Linked DNA regions of Homo sapiens. Each later gene encodes a partner of the first gene's protein in a complex. Each region holds a gene or a part of one and is shown on either strand. Other genes may lie near its edges. The genes, in order: NPTN and ATP2B1.

Region 1 (8,606 bases):
CAAAGTGACATCTGGTGCTCCCTCAGAAAGAATGTGGCCCCAGAGGCATGCCAGTGGCTTTAGACTCTCTGGGAGGACATGTTTGAGAGCAACAGCCCCTTCCCCATCTTTTCCTTTCTTCTCAGCAGTTATAAATCTCTCTGCCTGCAGTAAGTAGAGTGAGTGGCTGGTGAGGAGGTTTGTTGATGACACTGACAATATCTGGTGACTCCCTCCAGATGTGCACTCAGCAGTGAGCTGGGCAGAGGCGTGGGAAGGACGTTGGCTGGGAGCAGACGGCCTCTGCAAATGAATCTCTAGTTTCCTGCAACCTGGGAGTGTCCCCATGAGTTTTACTTTCCTACTTTATGAAGTGAACCTGCTTTCTTTGGGATTTCATGTACTCCTAATGCTTTTTCTCTCCAGGTATTTCTTTCCTGCTACATATTAGGACTCCCAAGGCAAGAGTGCACCTTTATTTAGACCTGGGAGTAAAGGGAAAGAGTTGCCTGTCTTTCGTGTGTTTTCAGCTTTGGCTCTGTGGGATCAGTTATGCCTCATTCCTGAAAAGGGCCTTTTTATCCCCCCAGAATGCTTTTGCTTTGCCAATACCACCTTCCTCAGCCTGCCTTTTGGAAAGGTTGAGAAGCTAAAAAGTCAGGTAAGAGAAGGCAGAGATGGACTTCAGAACCTGATTTTTAAATTTTAAGGCAAGGCTGGCTGCCACTGGTGAGAGTGATGCAGCAGCCTAGCGTGTTCCCAGCAGAGGTCTAGTCTTTGCCCTAAGAAGTCACCGCGCTTATGAGGTTGCTATCACAGTGCATGTGGTAGGTTAGATTTGAGAAATGGTTAGGATTGTTCTGTTGGATAAGTGCAGACACCTGCCCAGGGAAGCAGCTCTTTTTTTGTAAGAGTTTTCTTGGTTACTGAAATCAAATGGGGGACCAGTTTGTTATAGGAGACATCTGTGGCCAGCAAATCTGAACAGCTTCCTAGAGGGAAAGTACCTCTTTTAAACTAAGTTATTATAGACAGTGAATGAATCCTACCCTTAAAAGAGATGACGGCAGGGTAAGTGCAAAGTAAAACCTCCTTGCTCTAGTCTCTTGGGAGAGTATTGTAATGAAAGCAGCGTTTACTTCGTTGTTGTTGCATTGGGGTGAAAAATCTGAGATGCTGGAATGATGGCAATGTTTGCCTTCTCTCCTTCCCTTCCTGACAGCCAGTGTGGGCCAGGCTCCACTCTCCATCTTCACACCCTGCCCTTGCTCCAGTATTTCCATTCTGTTTTTCTCCTCTGTCTCTTTCTGTCTTTCTCTCAAACTCCATCCTGCTTCCACCCCTGCCCGCTTTTCTTCTCCTTTCCTGGAAGTAATCATTAAACAAAAGAAAAAGTTGAATGTTCTTTGGTGAGTTTCCTTCTTCTCTGCCTTTTCCTTCTTTAGCCAGTTCCCCTCAACCCCTGTGCACTCCATAGGAAGGACAAACTTACCTGTCTGCTTCCTTCCCATGTGCTTCTCCCCAAATTTTCATATAGATATATACGTACACTCCTTTTGGAATAAACGAAGAGGTACATTATATTTGACACAAACTTGGGAGTGTTAAGAGGTCATAAGTGTTTACCTATCAGATAACCATCTGTGGCTCTGTGTTGGATTTTTTTTATACCATTAGGAAAATGGGAATTTTTTTATAGGCCTGCCATACTTCTACTTTGCCAAATAGCACTTTATTATCAAGATACACCCATGGCTCATTTCAGACTCACTGAACTTTTTTTATATGAATGCACAGTCGTCATATTTTGGGCAGTCTGTGAGTTCTTGGTAACTCATCCCCTTACTACAAAAGCACTAAGTGAACAATACAAAAGTATAAAAGCACAAATTTGAACTTACATAGTTTAGTTTAAGTATGTTTCACTAGAAAATCAAATATTTAGATTTCTCACATTGAAAATGCTTAGGATTGAGGTTTAGCTGCTTCCTTTAAAAAAAAAAAAAAAAAAAAAGCCCCATGTCTTTTTTCTTTACCTACTGGAGTATTCTCAGACCATTTCCTACATGAAAACACCCACCTGCATTCCTTTAGTCCCCTGTATGGTCTCTTTGAGGATCAGTGCCCACTAGGTTGTCTTGTAGGTGGACTAATCTACAGATCACCTTTACCTTCAGTATTTTCAGGAACAAGTGAATCATGGAGTCAAATAAGAGCTTTGTTTTGTTCACTTGACTCACCACTTGACTGTATTCCCTGAAAATGTTAAATGATAGTTCTCTAAAAAGACCAGGTCAAGCTAGCAGCCTCTAGGCTTCCATCCATGTCACAGCTGGGCACCTGCTTGGGTGCACCTTCTGTGTTGGTGTCCTGCGGACTGCACTCCAGGAGCAGTCAGCCTGTGCTCCTGAGTCTCCCCTCCCCAGGCCCTGGAGGAATGGGGAGTGAACCCACTTAGTTGCTGAGGCCTGCAGTTCTTCTGGATATTTTAGTGACCTCACAGACAGCAAATTAAAACAGGAGCTGATTTAAGAAAAGAAGTGCTGGTACCAAAAAAGAACTTTCTGTTTTTACCTTGGGATAATTTTTTATAAGCAAGTCAAAGGGACTCTCTTTAAGTTACTGATGGAGAAGATATTTGAGGTTTTTTGGGGGGCCATTTTTAGTGGCTCTGATATATCCAAGCTCTTTTAGACACTTTAGAATGAAGAGCTGTTCTAATGTTCCAAAATCTATTCGTTGGTCAAAACATTTGGTAGCATATGAAGCTTTATACAGACTAGGGATATTGGAAAAGAAATGTGACTTTTAAAATGACACCTAAAACATGCATTCGGTGTCTGGTCTGTTAACTAGGGGCCATCTGGGTCAATAACAAGTTACCTCATGGAGAAAATGCAATAGGACCAAACAAGGAAGGAAATAGGAAGTAACTCAGTCTCTCTTGGGTTTAATGCTAACCTGCTAAGGTCAGGCAAAATTTAAGTGGATTTAGAAACCATAAAACCTTCTAGTGAGATGAATGCAGTGACAAAGGACCTTTGACCAGAGAGTCAACTCTTCATTATTCGGACTTTAAAGCCATCTTTTTGGAGGTGATATTGTATTAGGCAATCCGTTATTTACTAGACATTGCAGAGCACCCCTTCTAGATGATGAGGCGGATATAGGGGGAGTGAGGGCTGTGGTCCATTCGGTTGGGAAGATGGAACACGCAGATAAATCAGTGTGTGCTACAGTTCCACCGGTAACTTCACTCTCATAAGGTGGATTCCAGAAGCATCTTGTTTCCATTATCCCCCCAGTCCTCTTCCTCTCATCTAGCCAGTGGCTGTAATACTGAGGTGGAGAGAACAGTCATTGTTTAAGCTGGCTATCTTTTGGCCTGAGGGTTTGGGGTATGTTGATATTTGTCGGTTACTATGACTTCTTTTTTTTCCCCCCTCAATTGCATCAAACCCTTAAAACATGGTGGTAAGTGAGCGATATGCATGCTTTTGGAGTTTGTTTAATCTCCGCTTCAGTCTATACGATGCACAGTTCATAATGTTAACACTTTTCTTCAAGTTTACTTCATTCACTTTCACAACTAATTTGGATTTCAGTTTGCTGTTTAATCCTCATTTACTTTGGTTTCTGTATCTTTTTTCTGTAATTCTGTTCTTTCCCTCTCCCCTGACTTCCCTGTTAGGGGTCAAGTCGTTTTTTTGTCTGACCTGTAGGGGAGAGTGGTGCTGCAGATAGTGATTCAGTCCAGGAGAGTGGGGAGACATGAGGCTCTTTTGTTTGTCAGTGTGAAAGTGGATTTGGGGAGACAGATGAAGAGGGCTCCTGGGATTTTGCCCCCTTGTGAATCTCAACTGCTCCCACTTGCAGGCATGGCAGCTATGCCGGAGGCACTGTCGCTAAAACACCTCCATGCAACCCTTTGCATGTTACCAGCTTGTTGGGCTGGAAAGTGACATTACTAATCAGACACCAGGGAATACCCACACTCCAAAAGGAAAAACAGCCCGTGGTGTGAGGTGCTTGGGTTGGTGCCTACAGTGTCATGCTTTGAAAAGATTAGCCTGGCTATTGCGATTCTCCCTCCCCTGCTTTTTATTTTAAATTTGGGAGTAGATTGGTGTATTCTTGATTCGGCTCTCTTGCATTAGAATTTTGTATTTTCGAGTGCACAGCCAGAGCACTAAAAGTATTCCAAGTTTGCTCCTATGTCTTTTCATTTAAATCCCCAAAGTGCTTAGTTCCTAGCATGTAGCTGAGCTGGCTTGGCCGGGATGCTGAGCATTAGGATGTTGTGAGGGGAGAATTTAGGCTGGGCTTTTGTGTCTTAGTACCTGGTATGTCTTTGTATCTCTCCACTGCATACACAGCACACAGATGTCTTGGGTGTCCTTAAGTCTTAGTTTGTTCTCTGTACCCGTTTGATAGTGTATACTGTTGTTAGTAGTGGACTCCTGTGGACACTAGTGTGTCGCTAGCCTATTGTTTTGGCTGATGAGTCATTGGTTTGTGGTTAGTTCTTTTTTTTGAAATCCTTTTTTGCTCCAGTCACTGTGTGTGCTGGCGGTGGCTTTGCCTCTCCGTTGCCTCGAAGGAACAGGTGGAGCAATGTCTCCCTCTGACAGACATTACTCCCGACATGTGCTCCTGCAGATGCCTACACTGAGACTGTAATCTCCATAACTGCTTCATGTGCACCAAGCCCCCTTGTGGAATCCTGCTGAGAATTTTTCTAGAAGCCTTCAGTGAAATCAAACTGTTCTGAATCATTTAGTTTACCTGACTTTTGTATAATAAAAACAAACTAAGAGCACTTACTTGTTCCCTTCCCCTTGTGGGTCTTTTTAAAACATTCTCTCTCTGTGAATGTGTATCTCTGCTTAAAGGGGATCAAGTTGCACTTAGTTGAAACACGAAAGACTTATAAATCAGAATCATAAAGTATCAATTTAAGAAGGCTTAAACTCATATAATGTCAGCTTTTTGATTTTAAAAAAGTTATCTCATGGCTCCCCTGGGTTTGGCTTCTGGTTTTGGCCAGGGCACAGGAGTGAGCCTGTCTTTCTGAAGTCTTTTCTAGAGGGATGTCACCACTGTTCAGCTTTCCTCGGTGTGTCACAGAACATCCTCTGGTATACATACACTTGTTGCTGGCATAGCCCAGCATGGCTGACCCAATTTAGGTTGAACTATTGTGATTGCCTCTTCTCAATCTCATTCTCCAGACTAAAGACTCTTCTAAAGATTACAAAACAGCAAGAAAAACAGAGTGCCCTTTGGGGAAGTGAGGATGTGTGGCTAAATGTACAGATGGTACACATCCATTCACATTGCAGGATTGAGCCAAAACTGCATGCATTCACCACAAGAAAACAAACAGCAGGATTTTACAACTGAAATGTTGGTTTGTCTTCTCATCTATTTAAGAGTGAACCACTGGAACTTGGGGACAAGATGAGTATAACAATGTTGCAGCCTATCTGTCCGCTACAGTTGCAGTTTTTCATGACAAGCATTCAAAGTGTTAACTAAAACCATTGAAACAACATACCTGCCATTTAAACTTGAATCTAGAAATAATAACTCCATGAGTGTTTTGCACCTCCAGATGGAATGGCCTTTAATAAATGCTGTGAGTAGCCATGATTGCCACTTGCAGTTTGCTATTCTGTTAATCCTTATGCAGAATCTAACAGTTTTCTCCTTTCTTCTCTTATCTCTCATGGATTTTTAAAAAACTGAACACCATGTAGATGATGAACCAGCTGGACCAATGTAAGTACTTTATTGGACATTGATTCAACAGTATCTGATTGAATGATGTTGTGTTTGCAGTTTAATCAAATGGAGTAGCTAAGATTGGAGGGGAAGACAGTGAGTGGAAATGAAGGTTGCAGTGTAGATTTCTTAGCTTGACACAGATCTGACTAAAAACCACTTGATTCTCAGGATAGGTTATGCAGTCTTGTTTTCCAGTGGCCATACAAAGTGGAATACCATGCAAAAAACTTTTTTTTTTTTCAAATTTTGTGTATTTGATATACTTAAAATGTGGGGGAAATGGCCAGTATATCTGAGGCTCCCGGTTTTGTCAATGTTAAAACGTTTCTGATCCCAAGCATTTCAGATGAGGAATACTCAACCTGTAGCTACTTAAGGAATGTTTTTTTATGCACTCATATTGTGCCACAAAATTTCTCACTACACCAGGGATGGTAGTAAAAGGGTCCCTGTATTTCCATGTGTTATACTTTCAAAAGTTGTTACTGACCGAGTTTAACTCATGTAATGCAATTTGAGGCTGAACTATAGCCTGGATAAACTGTCTAGCCCCATTAACAATTGCTCGTATCCAAGAGAGAGGGTACTGCAGGTATGGAATCAATCTAAGATCGGCAGAATCTCCTAGAGTTGGACTAAAGAGTGAGAAGCAGACAAACAGCACCCAAATTTGTTAAGTACCAGAGGGCCCAGCACTGCCAGCTTATGATTACCTTTTATCAAGAAGGGACAGTGGTGTTGTGTTCAGTGGAGAAAAGTTTTACATATTCTCACCTGTATCGTAATTATAGTTCCGGATTCGAAGGGAAAGTACTCGTCTGCCTTGGGGGTCAAAAGGAGGATAAAATGAGGTATATACAGGTTGAGTCTACCTACTACCAAAATCCATAATCTGAAATGCTCCAAAATCTGAAGTTTTTTTTGTGTGCTCACATGAGGCTCAAAGGAAATGCTCATTGGAGCATTTTGAATTTTGGATTTTCAGATTAGGGATGCTGAACTGGTAAGTATAATGCAGATATTCCAAAATCTAAAAAAATTCAAAATCTGAAACATTTCTGATCCCAAGCATTTCAGATGAGGGATACTTAACCTGTAGCTACTTAAGGAATGTTTTTTTATGCACTCATATTGTGCCACAAAATTTCTCACTACACCAGGGATGGCAGTAAGTGAAAGAGTCCCTGTATTTCCATGTGTTATACTTTGAAAAGTTATTGACTGAGTTTAACTCATGTAATGCAATTTTTCCTCCAAAGGAAAACCAACTCTACCAACAATCACAAAGATAAAAACTTGCGCCAGAGAAACACAAATTAAGTACTGCTTACAATGTAAGTATGGCCTTCTGTAGCAGTCTTAAAAATTATATTCAAATGAATGTGCCTCTATTGACCTTGTTACAAATTCTTCAGTAATTGGTGTTATAAGATATTTTAGTTCATTTCAGAGCAGCTGATACTGATGAAGCCAGTTCTGTCTGCCCAGTTTAGGGACTGGAAAGGAACATTTTTCAGCTGCGTTGTTTTTTGTTGTTGTTTGGATTTTTTAAGATGGAGTCTCACTCTATTGCCCAAGCTGGAGTGCAGTGGTGTGATCTCGGCTCACTGCAACCTCCGCCTCCCGGGTTCAAGCAATTCTCCTGCCCCAGCCTCCTAAGTAGCTGGGATTACAGCTGCCCACCACCATGCCCAGCTAAATTTTGTATTTTTAGTAGAGACGGGGTTTCATCATGTTGGCCAGGGTGGTCTTGAACTCCTGACCTCAAGTGATCCGCCTGCCTCAGCCTCCCAGAAGTGCTGGGATTACAGGCATGAGCCAGTGTGCCCCGCCATCAGGTGCATTGTGTCACATGTTTATATAAATGCCATTTCAGAAGACATATTTTAAAATCAACACTTTTCACTACTATTATATCTTTACAAAGAGGTGAAAATTGTCACCTTCTTAGGTGGCTTATTCCCAGAGGCCTACTAGTCTTACCTCACGTCTGGGGGCAAGACAAGAATGGCCAGGTAGCAGCAGGGCCAGAATGTCATCTTGTTAGGCATATGGAGATCAGAATTTCACACCACATCCCTGAGCGTGCTGTTTGAACCAAAGTTTTGTGTGGCACACGGTGTAGTTGTGAGTGACAGTGCATAATCCCTTTATAATTTCCAAATACATATTTCTTTACAGATCTTTAGGTTCCTGAAACTGGTGGCAACATGACCTGCTAAAATTTTCTGCTTGGACCTCTTTGGTTCTCTCCCCTTTCAAGTGAGCAACACCACAATGACTGTCTAAAGCATGCCTTATTTAGCCTCTCCTGTAAGGGTGATCTAGCCAGGTACATTTTAAACAATGCTTCAGTGTAGAAGGTGTAAACTATTTTGGGCTTGATGTGCTGTGAATGTTGCTTTTTTTTTTCCTTTGTTAAAATATTTAAATAGAAGTGAAAAGGTCCTCTGAGGATCAGATCATGCATGCGCCATTTTTTACTTAATGCAGCTGTTAAATTGGCAAAGCTCTAAAATGCACTGCTGCCATCTAGTGATACACTTTTGTAAAGTACAGCAAAACCTACAGATATATACAGTATATAAATATATATATATATATATTTATATTTTTGGGGGTGGGAGAAATCCAAAATAAAGTAAATGCTTGTTTCATTTTTAAGCTGCTGATATTCATTCCTTATTGTATGTTGTCAGATGAGGAAATTGTGCAGTTCTGGTACATAAAGATGAGTAATATAAACTGAAATCTATAATTTTAAGGGCTTAACCTGTGACTTTAATAAGCTGGAACAGTCCACTGAATGGGTATAATGAATTGCAGTATATACGTATGAT
Region 2 (8,606 bases), on another chromosome or scaffold:
GTCCATCAACAGGCGAACGGACAAATTGTGGTGTATCTATACAGTGAATCCTCATCAGCAATAACAAGAACTACTAATATACACAACATGGATGAAACTCAATTATGGTGAGTGAATGTCAGACCAAAAAAGAACACATACTGTATGATTCCATGTACATAAAATTCCAGAAAAGTCAAATTATTCTATAGCGACAGAAAGCAGATCGGGGCTGCCTGAGGAAAGGAGGAGCTGGGGTAGGGGAAGGGAAGGAAGATAAGGAGGCACAAAAAATTTAGGGGAATGATTACCTGACTGTGGTGGCGACTGTGGAAATATATACATGCCTCAGAACTCAAGTTTTTCACTTTAAGTGTAAAGTTTATTCTATGCCAATTATATCTTAGTAAGACTATAACAAATTTGTTTATGAGAAAAAAAGGACACAAACTAAATAGAAGTTCTGGATTCAATATGGGTTTCACAGTAGGGTGAGCTGACTGGGACATTTTCTTTGGAGACACAGACACAGCCAATGTCCGATTCTTGAGGTCTTTTACCTTGAGCTGGTCAGGTTAGATAAGACACTTCTATTCTGGCCAGAATTCTGAAAGCTGGGTGAGGGAAGAAGACTGGTGATCTTAACATAAATAGGTAAACACTCGGTTTTGAGTGTGGTACCCTGGTTTTCAACTGTATTCCCAGTGTGCATAGCCTTCTCCAGAAAGCAAGCTTCCAGCCTTCTGCAAGGATGAAGGAAAAGAGATCACAGAGTACAGACAGAGGGAAAGATATCTGGGTATCAAATTCCTAAAATTTCAACCAGTTCTCCCGTTTTGCCCCCCTGTCCCCTCTTCACCATGGGTCCCATGTTTTCCCAGCTTTGAGCTCTCAGGGAATTCTATAAACTGACTTGTTTCTGGGCTTTTCTATTACTTAGAGATCAGCTTTTTAAGTCTACTAAGTCAACGCCTTCTAAAATTTTGGTGTGGGTTTCTCTTCTCCCTTGTGGATTTATGGCTTTTTTAAAAAAGAATTCCCTTATTCTCATTTTAGTATATGTTTGGCAAGAGGCAGAGTTAAATGCTAGTAATATGCCACTTGTTTAACTGAAATCTTAGATAATTTAGCTTTTCAATAAATGTATTTATCTTCATAAATCAAACACGGTGTATCACAGACGAAACGTCAAAATGATGACAAAGTAGTTAAAAGACAAAATTGGAAGGCAAACCTAACAGAATAAAGAAATAAATGGTTGAAAGTTTGGGGGGAGCGGGTAACCTGTTTTTGCTATACAAATTTTGTTAAAAGCCAAATTTTCAAGAGAGAAAAATCAAAACCCCCTGACTTTGTACTTTTTGAGGAGTTAAAGAAACCAAGTGATTTATCCAAGACAAGTGGGCTTTTTAGTGGTGAAGATAAATTTCACATTTAAATCTGGTGAGTCCTTAACATATCATGGAGTAAAAACCAAAACCAAAGGAGACACAGGCTCTGAGAAAGGTGGGTATTTCTAGCAAAAGAAATGCTGTCAGCAGGAGGGCCGGAGGTGATCAAGTTCCAGCATTAAATTATGTACATAAAAACAGTAGTGCTTAAGCTCAAAGGCAGGGTCATCTATTTTTTGAGACAGAGACGGTCTCCCTCTGTCGCCCAGGCTGTAGTGCTGTGGCACAATCTCAGTTCACTGCAACCTCTACCTCCTAGAATCAAGCGATCCTCCTACCTCAGCCTCCCAAGTAGCTAGGACTACAGGTACACGACACCATGCCTGGCTAAATTTTTTTTTTTTTTTTTTTTTAGTAGAGATGAGGTTTTGTCATGTTGCCCAGGCTGGTCTCAGACTCCTGTGGTCAAGCAATCCTCCTGCTTCAGTCTCCCAAAGGGCTGGGATTACAGGCAGGAGCCACTGCGCTCGGCCAAAGACAGGGTAACATAAACTTTACCCTAAATCCACTGTGCATGCAGAAAGGGGTTGACTGACGAATCCTTGTTTTTCTGAGACTCGACATGCAGACAGTTTGATGCTAGAGGAGCTCCCTTTCCTAGGCTTTGTCATATTTCTTTCCCATTCACTGACTGACCTTCCTTGTTTTCAGCCCTCTATTTGCACTGGTACCCTTTAACTCAGTAGTTCTCCGCTATGGTATTAGTTGTCAGGAGTGTCCACACTTAAGTACCTTAAGTTCATGAGTCATTTTTTAAGCAAACAAAAAAGAGTAGTTATAGCACTTACTTTCTTTTGAGCATGAATAGAGAAGAAAAGGACAGAAGTATAGCAAAGAAATTAAAAATCTCTTAGTATTAGAGGTACTAAAAAAATCTAGATATTAGCAAGGGAGAATGGAGTATATGTCAGTATCATCCATGAGTGTCCCAGTAGAAAAACAACTTACTAATCTAACCAATTTCACTTTTGCTGATTCCATTCATCTCTACCTTCAGATTTCTTTTTATTTTCTTCACTACCAAAACCACTCCTGTGCTACTCTTTGACCAACAATTTTATTATGATTATTATTGCAACGTCAATTAAAGCAGGAGCAAGTCTTAGAACTCCTTCCACAATACCTTACCAACAATTAGACCTATAAAATTTAAAAGGTTGGGAGAATACTCAATAGCAGTGCACCTGTAAGGTCTCAGCTGTGCTAATCATAGGAAAATGAATAATTTCTGGAGAACAACTCTTATTTTTTCAAGCATTTTTAAATATAACAGCTTACATACTAAAGCTATATAAATCTTTAGTTACTTAAATGTCTAAAATTACTACTCTATGTATCACTCAGACATTCAATAGAAATGATAAAGTCAAATACAGGCTTTCCTTCTTGACTTCTTGGCAGCTGGAAGAATAATCCATTGCTATACTCTAATACAGACCATATACCTACTCTTCTTCCTGATGCCTAGTGATTCTGTAGCAGGTCATGATCTAACAGTTTGCTCTCAGTTCATGGAACGGCAGCAATGATATGATGCTCAGTCTTTGGTCTGTCTAAATGTGCCCATTCTTCAAAACTCAGCATTACTCCACCCTTTCCCATCATCTCTCTTTGATTTTCTGGTCTGAAGTCCTCCGGGTTGTACACTTCCCATTTATTATCCCTTTGTCTTAGTAATTCATTTGGAGATAACATAAAAGAACTGAGATAAGATATAGGGTTCTATATCACGATATATAGAACTTTATCCAGCAAATGTTCAGGTACTATTTTTTTTGGCATATTGGTTTAGGATTTAGACATTGTGTAGCTTCTGTTAAAGTAAAGCAGAGAAGGTTAAGGAAATTTTTCTGGGAGATTTTTAAAACCTTTTTACCTTTGGAATTTTAACCTTACTCAGATGGGTTCATAAGGCAATGTTTTATTTCTGGAAGATAGCTACATACATTTCACAGAATGTTACTAGGACAGTAGAATTTAGCTTCTCTACAGGCAGGACTTTTCCACTTCTGAATTTCAATGTGGCAGTTAATTTGGTTTTTTTGTTTGGTAAACAGGTTCTTTGCTGTGTCACCCAGGCAGCCTCGAACTCCTGGCCTCAAGCGAACCTCCTGCCTCAGCCTCCCAAAGTGCTAGGACTTATAGGCATCAAGCACAGCATCTGGCCCCTAAGGGTCCTATCAGGTGAGAGGAAAAACACATACACATTCACAACAAAAGGATGAGGGACCACCAGACTCTAAGACCGTCACACAGTGGACAGTCAGCAATACTACAGTATGCAACACAGCTCTCAACTCCAGGAAACACAATTCATTTTGTGTTGTATGTGAACAGCATCCCCTGGAGTTGTGCAAAGCAGTGATCCTGGTACACAAAGTTAACAAGGTGAGATGTTCCACTAAAGGGAGTTTTGTGAAATGAGAGGACAAAACACTAGCCACATTTAGATTCAGCCCTTATTAGCACCTTGAAGTACCAGAGAAGTTCCAAACTGCATAAACCAGCATATCCTGGAGTTTGGTTGTGCCTCTTTCCCCCAGGAAATCCCTATTAATATTTTTTGGAACCAGCATTCTAAAACACAATTTAGAAAACACTGAGCTACTTTATAAAAGGCCTTCAGAGTCAAGTTGTATTTTGATAAAGAGAAAAATAAAAAAAAGATGAAAGTTTTAGTGAAGAAACTGTGGTTTAAAATAGGTTATTGAAAAACAAAAGAAAATTCTGGCACAAATATGAAAGGTAGATTAAAGCAGCAGATCTGAGAGTTTTGAGAGTACAAGATTATTATTTAAAATCCTCCTGAGAGAGAACTCACTCACAGGGTTAATACAATGAATAATAGATCCACATTGTTAATAAAAAAGTATTTAAAAAGCATCTTTCAAGTTAAACAGTCAAATCTTCTTTAAGACCTATTTTTTTCAGAAAACATAAATTTGACTCCTAAATTTATCAGGTCTGTACAGTAGTCATGCCAGTTTACAGTTAGGCAGTGTAATCTCAGATTTCACAGTGTAAGCAAGCATTGGTCCATTCAACACTACCTTTATTTGTTCCCTCAGAGGCCCAGGTGACAGTAGTATTACTACAAAAGCAGGTATCCCATATTTTAAGAAACCATATTGTTGGAAGTCACTGTACTTAGAAATACCAAATATTCTTATAACTAAAAACACCACATACGATTTGGAATAGCTGACACTGTCCTAGGAAAAATTTAATAGAAAATAGCTTTTAAAAATATGGCAAAAAAAAATGTGCCCACAGTTTATTTGGACCTCTCTGCCAAAAATATTTATTAATTTAGATTACCATAAGCTTTAGTAAATTACAAGCTATGATTCCTAAATAAACCTTAAGGTGTAGCCAACAAGACTAAGTTTTGGAACAAACAAAAACAGGTTCCCAACAGTCTTGAGATGAACCTGCTTTGAAATTAATTTTATTATAAAATATATTTTAAATGCAGATACAGGCTATTTGCTATACTGTTATAAATGAAGCAAAAAACAACTGCATTTCAAAACTGGTCTTAAAGAGGAAAATTATTAAAGGCAGGTAATTCACGTGGATATGGTATTAGATAAAATAGTTCCAAAAGTCAGAGTAGATTGGTGAACTACACAAACGGTTATTTAACATTTAAGTGAGACAGCAGTAACTTCTGTTTTAATGCATAAAATAGTAAATTATCAATTAGTATGCTATCACTAATATTCTTGGAAGATCTACTTGCTGTTTTTGAAAGAGCAACTGCTTGTTAACTAAAATTAAAGAGAGCTATCTATCCACTAACTTATGTCCTTTTAGTCTGAAGGAATATCCGATCTTTTCTTCTAACAAAGAGCTAGACTAAAGGATAAACACACACTACTGTAAGGATACAGCATGCATTATTTTTATGAATATAAACTCTGGTGTCTAAGTCATTTGAAAATGGCAGACATTAAGACATGAAAATAAAAGAACATTCTCTAATAGTTTACAGTGCTTAATAAGTAACTTAAGTAACCACAGATGGATCTTCTGAAAGACTGGGCATACATAGATAACAGAAATATTTTCAATTTATCAGTTCTAGGATTGTCACAAAAACCATCGACATCAACAAATCAAACTTTGCTACTGATTTAGGTATCTCTACCATGTAACTTTAACTTAGTTATAAATGCAATGTCAATGTTTCTCAAAATGCAGACTACTGTAGCATTTGGCCCCACCTCAAATCTGCTGAATCAAAATTCCAGGGGCAATGCCAAGGAATCTGCACTTTCAGTAACTCCCCCAGGTGATTCTTCATGCACATTAATGCTGGAGAACCACACCTTTCTTGTGAGATTTATAACCAGGTTTTGGATTTCAGGAACTAAAACCTCCTCATTTGGAACCTTTTAAACTAAATTTCATTACAGAACAAATGAATATTTCAAAGAGATTTAGGTAATAAACATGTTATAGTATAAAAACAAGTGCATAAAAAGTTACAGCAGAAATTTAAAGAAGAAACTTTTAGTACAGCACATTTTATTTTTATTCAAGATTTAAGACACCCCTAGGCCAACAGTTCTTTGAAATCAAAATTCCTAACTTAAAAAAATCCACAATATTAAAAATATAGTATTTCAGATACGTTCACATTCACTCAGCTGTTAAGTAAATCAAAACACAAACTGTTTGTATTACACCAAATATAAGTAATGATTAAATTTATAAAGCTCAACCCAAACAAACCCATTCATATTTCTCTATTAAATTTACTCTGATCAAAACTGATTTTCCATACATAACTTTCATAAACTTACATAAACGTGTATAATGAGAAGAGCAATGAGCAAAATCTAGAAGCCACCTAAAGTCCAGTTTGGGCTAAAAAAGCTGCTAGCTATATGACCTTAGGGCCTAGACAAATCACTTTGCCTACCAGAAAAAAAACAAAAAACAAAAAACAAAAAAAAGTACAATTGTCTGCCTTACTCACCACACAGGATTATTGTGAGAATCAAATGAGGTCATATGTAAATACATTCTGAAAACTGTAAAGTAGTTAATAATAATACCTGTGATTTCTGAAGACAGCAAAATTTGAGAGACACTATCTTTGGGCACCTGCTGTAAAATACACAAACTACCACCAGAAAAATTAAAATGTATATGCCACTAAAGAATCAACGAAGAACATAAAAACTGACCATTCAGATTTAATTAGATATTGGACACTATTGAGTATACCGTATTCTGAAAAATACAAATACAAAAATTCGATTCGATTACCTGTCCTATGTCCCCATTTATAACAGAACCATTTCTTGTGTTAAGATATAAATGAAATGTGATGGACCACGAGAGTTGGTAATTGTCAAAACTGGCCAGTAAGTATATCATTCTCTCTACTTTCCTATGTTTGATAATTTCTATAATAAAAAATTTTAACAAGACAACAATATATGTGGTATGTATAGATAACATTTCTAAAAGCTAAAAAGTGAATTTTTTAAAGTTATTTATCTTTATGAAAATTATTCCCATAACCATTGTATGTTATTTTCCTGGCAATGTCACCTCAGATTCCACCTAGTCCCAAATAAGCTACTATTAGTACCTTTATTACATATCATGACAGCTACTAGAAAATAATTATTCCCTTCCATCTGGTCAATACTCTTGCCCGAGATGCAAAAACCTAAATGTTTGTTTCTGCTTTCTGATCCTCAGTCCTTTTATTGTTTTTTGCTCATCCATTACAAAATTCCAGAATAAAAAAGTGAAAACATCAATTTTACTGTATTCATGTGTAAAATGTAAGGGAAAAAAACCAAATATTATTTTGTTCAATATTACAGAAGACCAATAGTTATAAGTGGCCGTTCCTTTTAAAACTCATTTCCCATGGTAAGAGACTGTTGCATCTGAAATGAAGTTAACATGTCTGTCAGTCAAAGGAAATTAGTAAATCTTACTCTGAAATCAAGGAATCTATGAAAGTATATATAACAACATATAATTACTCTACATGCAACAATCTAATAGCTCAAATAATGTCCTTTATCCCGGGGCCATATTCCATAGTTCGACAGAGAACACATAGCAGTAAGGGGATAAAACACCTTTCATCTCAGAGTTTTTGGCTAATTTTAGTTTAATAAAGACTTATCTACAGCTCAATAGCCAATGCTTTACATTGTCTATAGAGAAATTGCAAGTGTTGAATGAAACCTTAAATGCAGATAGAAGGGCAGTAATATTTTGCGGTTTGTAAGTAAGACTATATGTAATAATATCCACATCTTAATTCATTACTTGGGAGCTAAATCCCTTTTCTCATGTTACATCAAAAAAGGAGGCTGTGCCTAAAGAGACAGTGTTCCTTATACTTATGATTTGGGAAGGAAGGGAAGGGAAAGAAATCTCAACTGTCACTACAGTAACTCTTTTCTAAGTATTAAAATCTCCATTTATTTTTACATGAGATGCACCTGAGAGGAGCCATGTATACAAACCACTTTTTCTAACATGGTCTTTATTAAACTTTGAATATAAGTACACCTGCTCGAAGTGTTCATCTATATTATTTAAGAACAAGCAACTGTAAAACAGTAAAATCACAAAAGGTAAGTTGTTGGAAGACAACAAAAAAGAATTACTATATCTGATCCTGCGTGTTTATTTTAGAATCTGTTAATAGGCCTACAGCTAAAAAAAAAAAAAAAATTGTAAAGCCACTGTCATACTGGTAGGTACCTTTATTTGGTGGCAATGGCTAGTTCAAACCACCTATTAAAAGCAGCTATTACTTTCCTTCTTTTACCAAGAATATCCAGACCATCAATATTATTATAAACACAAATCAAAACTAGTTTCTCATCTCATCTCAGAATGCTAAAATCCCAAGCTTCAATAAAAAAAAGATTTCCCATACAATTGCAGAAATTTCTCTCAAAAGAGAAATGAGAGAATACAGAAAAATGAAGACAATTCCCCCTTACACGTCAAAATGGGGATGCCAATAATGACAGCTGCGATAAAAATCAAGAAGGCGTACCCCGAATTTTCACCATTTTAATAAAAGAAAATCACGAAATTTTAAATTAAAGGTGGCGCTCTGTCCTCAACTCACCCGAATGTGACTCACTTTTGCAGACTATATGGTAGGAAATTAACAGTTACTTTTCA

What was found.
Region 2: the proteins of NPTN (region 1) and ATP2B1 are in contact, whole or in part, in a cryo-EM structure (PDB 6A69), measured with the Homo sapiens proteins. Residues at the interface, in NP_036560.1 of Homo sapiens: Arg245, Ser246, Asn248, Arg332, Arg334, Pro339, Pro342, Phe343, Gly345, Ile346, Glu349, Ile350, Ile352, Leu353, Ile356, Ile357, Tyr360; in NP_001353449.1 of Homo sapiens: Phe954, Asp955, Ile956, Asp957, Glu996, Arg997, Asn998, Val999, Glu1039, Gln1040, Leu1042, Trp1043, Ile1045, Phe1046, Met1049, Gly1050, Leu1052, Leu1053, Gln1056.

The regions. Positions count from the first base shown.
Region 1 is NC_000015.10:73,560,390-73,568,995, reverse strand, and holds part of NPTN (neuroplastin isoform b precursor), read left to right. Parts: exon of another isoform or gene 1-2,058; intron 2,059-5,210; exon of another isoform or gene 5,211-5,617; intron 5,618-5,738; coding exon 5,739-5,760; intron 5,761-7,025; coding exon 7,026-7,086; 3' UTR 7,087-7,100; intron 7,101-7,947; 3' UTR 7,948-8,606. UniProt on the Homo sapiens protein: Probable homophilic and heterophilic cell adhesion molecule involved in long term potentiation at hippocampal excitatory synapses through activation of p38MAPK. May also regulate neurite outgrowth by activating the FGFR1 signaling pathway.
Region 2 is NC_000012.12:89,698,251-89,706,856, forward strand, and holds part of ATP2B1 (plasma membrane calcium-transporting ATPase 1), read right to left. Parts: intron 1-8,606. UniProt on the Homo sapiens protein: Catalyzes the hydrolysis of ATP coupled with the transport of calcium from the cytoplasm to the extracellular space thereby maintaining intracellular calcium homeostasis.